Homo sapiens: one gene and its partner. The protein of the gene in region 2 purifies or fractionates together with the protein of the main gene of each other region. This does not show direct contact. Each region holds a gene or a part of one and is shown on either strand. Other genes may lie near its edges.

Region 1 (3,653 bases), on a different chromosome or scaffold from region 2:
TGGCTCCTTCCCTTAAGCTATGTCCATCAAACCTAGCTCCTCCTATCATCAGTCTTGGCTCTGTCCCTTAAGCTCTGTCCATCAAACCTAGCTCCTCCCACCAGTCCAGGCTCCTCCCCTCAAGCTCTGTTCATTAAGCCTAGCTCTTCCCCCCAGCCCTGGCTCCTCCCCTCAAGCTCTTCCCATCAAGCCTGGCCCCTCCCATCAAACCCAGCTCCCCAAAAAGGCGCTACTCTGGCCCTTGAGGATTTGTGTACACAGCCCACCCTATCCTAACGCCTAGCATCTGACCTCAAAGTCCCACCCATCGTGCGTGGCTTTTCCGGGACCCCATTTCTTGTTCCTTCCCTTAAGGCCCCACCCATGAACCACTGGCCCCGCCCCCTCAAGCCCCACCCCCCCCGTCAAGTCCCTCCCATCTGCAGGTTCTTCCTTTTCCCAGGCCCTTGGGGGCCGAGGTGCGCCTCCTGCAGCTCTCAGGTCTCACCCTCTAGCGCTTGCCCCCACAGGGAGCCCACCTAGCTGTCATTGATGCCCTCATGGCTGCCTTTGCCTTCGAGTGGACAAAGACCCTGCCAGGTCCCTTGGCCCTGACCAGCTTGGAGCACAAGCTGCTTTTCTGGGTGGACACGGTAGGTGGGGTTGGGCCTGGGGTGGGTTCGGGGACCAGCATCGTCCAGTGGCCAGACCACTGACCCCCTCCCTGCCCTCCAGACCGTCCGGCGGCTGCAGGAGAAGACCGAGCAGGAAGCGGCCCAGCGAGCCTCTCCAGCAGCCCCTGCAGACGGGGCGGCCCCGGCGCAGCCCTCGGTGAGGCCAGGGCATAGAACCGTCAGAAGGATGGGGGACCGGAGATCTGGGAGGGCAGGGCTGTGCTTCCTGGACACTCCTGAAGTGGGGAGGGGGCTAGAGGTGACACACTCTCTCTTTCTTCCCCCCTCTCTCAATCTCTCTGTGCCCTGCCCGTCCCCTGTGCCGGTACCCGCTGCCCTCCTCTCTGCCTCTCTGGCCTCAGTGCCCTACGCGCTGGTACTGGAAGCTGGTTCCTGTAAGTGGGGCTGTCTGTCCGCCCCGTCTGCCTGCCCTGCTTGTAGCTCTGTCTGTCTGTATGTCTGTTTCTGCCTGCCTGTCTGCGCGCCCTCTCATACCTCCCCAAGCTGTGAGCAAAGGAGGTTGGACCCCAGTCCTGGGAGACAGGGAGAACCCCTCTGTGAACCAAGAGAAGGGTAGAATCTCGGCCATTAACTGAGAGGGCAGACCCCTCCCCCAGCGAACTGATGGGTGGGGACGAACTTCCCCTCCCGTTATTCAGAAGGGCAAGCCCTCCCCGTTCCCATTAATGAAGAGGGTGGGACCCCCTGAACCTGTCCCCCTTAGCCGAGGTGGGGAGACCACATAAATTTCTGAAGGGGGGACCTGCAGCCCATCACAAACGTGGATCCTGACCCTAGCAGGCAGGGCACCCTCTGGCCAAGGGGAAGACCCTCCAATGCAGAAGAAGATAGAATAACTTTCCTAACTGAGACCCCCAGCTTCCCTAGAGAAAAATCCCAGCTTTGAAAAGGAGGAGGAGGCCCATCCCTGAAGCTGGAAGTTGAAATTTCTCTCTTCCCTGAATGAGCTGTGTGACCTTGCAGAAGTATCTAAACCTCTCTGTGCTTCATATAAATTACTCCCATAGTAGATAAACAAGGAGGAAGTGGGGGAGGTTTTGGGCTGGCTGGCGTCCCCACCTTTGCTCACTCCTTCCCCCACCCTGGGGCCTGGGTTGGGAGGTTCCCTTCCTGCCTACCCGCTTCCTCTGCATCCTCTCCCCAAGCTGGGGGCCTGGGTCTTTTGTGGGAGGAGGATTCCCCGCATAAGAGGGGGTTCCTACTCTGTGGGGTCCCTTGGGGCTGGGAGGAGCTGGGGTTCGCGAAGCCGGCCAGAGCAGTCAGGGAGCTGGACGGCCGGGGCTCAGGACCAGGGTCAGGGCTACCCCCTCCCCCCCAAGGTGGGCTTGGGGGCCCAGCAGGTCAGCACCCCTCCCCCTTGCTGATGGCTGCTCCTCTCCCCCCAGCACGCAATTGCCTTCTGTTTGAAGGAGTCGGGGAGCAAACCCCCCATGGTAATGTATCCCCCGCCCCGGGGTCCCAGGAGTCCCTGTCCCCAGCCCCCGCTGCTGGCCTGGCTGCTCGAAGACATCTCCTCTGCCTCTTGCTGCTGCCCCTCCCCTGCTCCAGGCTGGCCCCCCAACTCTGTCTCTGGGACCCCCAGCTTCCCGCCCCCTCATGGCGGAAACCCCAGGCCTCCCTGCCCAGCCTGCATGACCGCTGACCCTGGGGGCCAGCCTGGCCACTCACCTGACCTGGCTCCCATCTGCAGATCCGATACCGCAAGGACCGTGTGGTGGCGCGACGTGCCCCCTGCTTCCCGACGGTGACCAGCCTCCAGGACCTGGCCAGTGGGGCCGCGCTGGCCGCCACCATCCACTGCTATTGTCCCCAGCTGCTTCGACTTGAGGGTGAGTAAATGGATGTGGAACAGATCTTGTGCCGGGGAGCTGGGCATCCTAAGTCCCAGCCCCTAGACCCTCCATCCCCAGGTCCGCGAGACCAGCAACGATGCAGTGGTCATGAGGGCAGCTTCCGGAACTGGCAGGCCTGAGTTTGTGTCTCTCTCTTCCCCAATGAGCTTTGTGACCTCACACAAGTATATAAACCTCTCTGTGCTTCCAGGAGTTCATTCCTGCAGCAGATGAAACGTATGGAGTGTGGACTGTGTGCCAGACCTTGTTTTAGGCACTGGGGATCCAGCCAGAATAGAGACACACTCCCCACTTCACAGACGGCTCTAGCTGGGAGAGAAAGATACTAAGTTTATCCAAAAGTACTTTTTTTTTTTTTTTTTTGAGACGGGAGTCTTGCTCTGTTGCCCAGGCTGGAGTGTAATGGCATGATCTCGGCTCACTGCAACCTCCACCTCCCAGGTTCAAGCCATTCTCCTGCCTCAGCCTCCTGAGTAGCTGGGACTACAGCCACACGCCACCACGCCTGGCTAATTTTTGTATTTTTAGTAGAGACGGGTTTCACCGTGTTGGCCAGGCTGGTGTCGAATTCCTGACCTCAAGTGATCTGCCTACCTTGGCCTCCCTAAGTGCTGGGATTGCAAGTGTGAACCACTGCACCCGGCCCAGAAGTACTTTTTGCATACTGGGTAGTCCTAAAGGCAATGGGTGGTCAGAAAAAGCTTTTTTTAAAAAAACTCTTTTTTCTTTTTTATTAAAAAAAAAATTATAGGGCTGGGTGTGGTGGCTCACGCCTGTAATCCCAGCAGTTTGGGAGGCCGAGGCGGGTGGATCACGAGGTCACGAGTTCAAGACCAGCCTGGCCAGGATGGTGAAACCGTCTCTACTAAAAATACAGAAATTAGCCGGGTGCGGTGGCGGGCGCCTGTAATCCCAGCTACACAGGAGGCTGAGGCAGGAGAATCGCTTGAACCCAGGAAGTGGAGGTTGCAGTGAGTCAAGACCATGCCATTGCACTCTAGCCTGGGCAACAGAGCGAGACTCCATCTCAAAAAAAAAAAAAAAAAAGTATAAAATAGAGATGGGGTCTTGCTATGTTGCCCAAGCTGGTCTTGAATCCCTGGGCTCAAACATCCTCCCACCTCAG
Region 2 (2,352 bases):
TCAAGCTGTATGACCTTCTGCAAACCATAGTTCTTTGAATTAATGTACTTTTCAAAGAGAAAAGTAGGTAAATTTTGCCTTAAAAACCAGCTATTCAGAACTATCCTGTGTCTCTGGTGACTTTCTTGATTCTGTTTGTAATGAACAGACTAAAAATTGAAACAGCATGCCTGTAATCCTAGCCACTAGGGAGGCTGAGGTAGGAGGATCACTTGAGGCCAGGAGTTCAAGGCTGTTGCCTGGGCAACACAGCAAGACCCACCTCTTAAAAGTGGAGAGTTCTAAGAATCCCTGGAAGAGTTTGTTAAATCAATTCCTGGGCCCACCCTCCAGAGATTCTGATTCAGGTCTGGGGTGGGGCCCACCAACTTGCATTTCTACCAAGTTTCCAGGTGATGCTGGTCTACTGCCTACACTCTTAAGAAGCACCATTCCAACTCGTGGTTTGCCAGCCTAATTCTCTACCTCGACACAAAAAAGTCCCATCATAAAAGCCCTGCTCATACGCTGAGTCTGTGCACTACCAATGCAAAGCAGTGAAAAACTACCATCAATTATAACAGAAAATCCAACAGACAAAGAGAGGGGGAAATTTTAAAGTTAATGAGGGTAGGCTGGGCCTGGTGGCTCACACCTGTAATCCCAGCACTTTGGGAGGCTGAGGTGGTGGATCACTTGAGGCCAGGAGTTGAAGACCAACCTGGCCAACATGGTGAAACCCCATCTCTACTAAAAATGTAAAAATTAGCTGGGCGTGGTGATGCACATCTGTAGTCCCAGCTGCTAGGGAGGCTGAGGCAAGAGAATCGCTTGAACCCGGGAGTGGAGGTTGCAGTGAGCCGAGATTGCACCACTGCCCTCCAGCCTGGGTGACAGAGCGAGACTCTGTCTTAAAAAAAATAAAAATAGGCCGGGTGCAGTGGATTATGCCTGTAATCCCAGCACCTTGGGAGGTCAATGTGGGCTGACTGCTTGAGGTCAGGAGTTCAAGACCAGCCTGGCCAACATGGTGAAACTCTGTCTCTGCTACAAATACAAAAATTAGCCGGGTATAGTGGTAGGTGCTTGTAATCCCAGCTATTCAGGAGGCTGAGGCAGGACAATCTCTTGAACCCAGGAGGAGGAGGTTGCAGTGAGCTGAGATTGTGCCACTGCACTCCAGCCTGGGTTACAGAGTGAGACTCAGTCTCAAAAAAAAAACAAAAACAAAAACAAAAAAATTAAAATTAAAAAAAAAGTTAATGGGGGTAGAGAGAGTATACAACAAGTGTGTAGCAATTAATTAAAAATATGAGTAGTATAGGCTGGGCGTGGTGGCTCATGCTGGTAACCCCAGCACTTTGGGAGGCCAAGGTGAGTGGATCACTTGGGGTCAGGATTTGAGACCAGCCTGGCCAACATGGTGAAACCCCATCTCTACTAAAAATAAAAAAATTAGCCAGGCGTGGTGGCGTGCACTTGTAGTTCCAGCTCCTTGGGAGGCTGAGGCAGGAGAATCACTTGAACTAGGGACATGGAGCTTGCAGTGAGTCAAGATTGCACCTTTGCACCCCAGTCTGGGCAACAGAGTGAGATTCTGTCTCAAAAAAAAAAATATGAGTAGTAGTAATATAGAAGCAGAGTGTTCCAACAAGAGAGAATGGTAACTCAGTGGGAAGAACTGGGTTGAACACCTCCAAGTGCCACTTTAAAGGTGCCTAAATCAACCAACCAGCTCAATTGTCTGGAGTTTGGGAGAGGGAGCAGGAATACAATGAAAGAACACACTAAAACAACCTTTTGGGTAGATATGGAGAGAAGCCAGTATGCGTCTTACTATGACCTATCTGTACAAGTCTAAGTTGAGGAAATACCCATATTGTAGCACTTCAACAGAAAACAGAATTTAGCGGTCAGGGTAGGACAGAGGGGAGTTCAATTGCATTCAAGTTATGAGATGGTCTCATCTACAAAGTGTTTCTCAAACTTTAATGTGCATGTGAATCACCTGCGAATCTTCCTAAATGGATTCTGACTCTGGTTTGGATCTGGGATTTTTCATTTCTAATATGCTTCCAGTCCACGACCTACCCTGTAAGAAGAATCAAGACAGTGATTTGCAGTTAGAATTACCTAAGGGAACTTTTGAAAAAACTGCTGCCCAGTCACACCACACATTAAAGCAAAATTTCTGGGGGCAGGATCCAGGCACCAGTGCCTTAATGTCTGATCTAGATGTACAAAGACAAACTTCTGAACTGGCTGTGTGGTCAGGTAGGTGGGCTTTGGAGATCATACCTAAGTTGTCTGATTTTTACTGGCAGAATGGCTCTGAACAAACTATTCATCTCTCTGGGTCTCCTTTTCCTTAGT

Evidence for each region.
Region 1: the proteins of NCF2 (region 2) and CAMSAP3 purify together in Homo sapiens (affinity purification with mass spectrometry; 2 studies listed by BioGRID and IntAct, with this or other methods). This does not show direct contact.

The regions. Positions count from the first base shown.
Region 1 is NC_000019.10:7,605,762-7,609,414, forward strand, and holds part of CAMSAP3 (calmodulin-regulated spectrin-associated protein 3), read left to right. Parts: intron 1-509; coding exon 510-632; intron 633-714; coding exon 715-810; intron 811-1,015; coding exon of another isoform or gene 1,016-1,048; intron 1,049-2,059; coding exon of another isoform or gene 2,060-2,107; intron 2,108-2,364; coding exon 2,365-2,503; intron 2,504-3,653. UniProt on the Homo sapiens protein: Key microtubule-organizing protein that specifically binds the minus-end of non-centrosomal microtubules and regulates their dynamics and organization.
Region 2 is NC_000001.11:183,557,124-183,559,475, reverse strand, and holds part of NCF2 (neutrophil cytosol factor 2), read left to right. Parts: intron 1-2,352. UniProt on the Homo sapiens protein: Subunit of the phagocyte NADPH oxidase complex that mediates the transfer of electrons from cytosolic NADPH to O2 to produce the superoxide anion (O2(-)).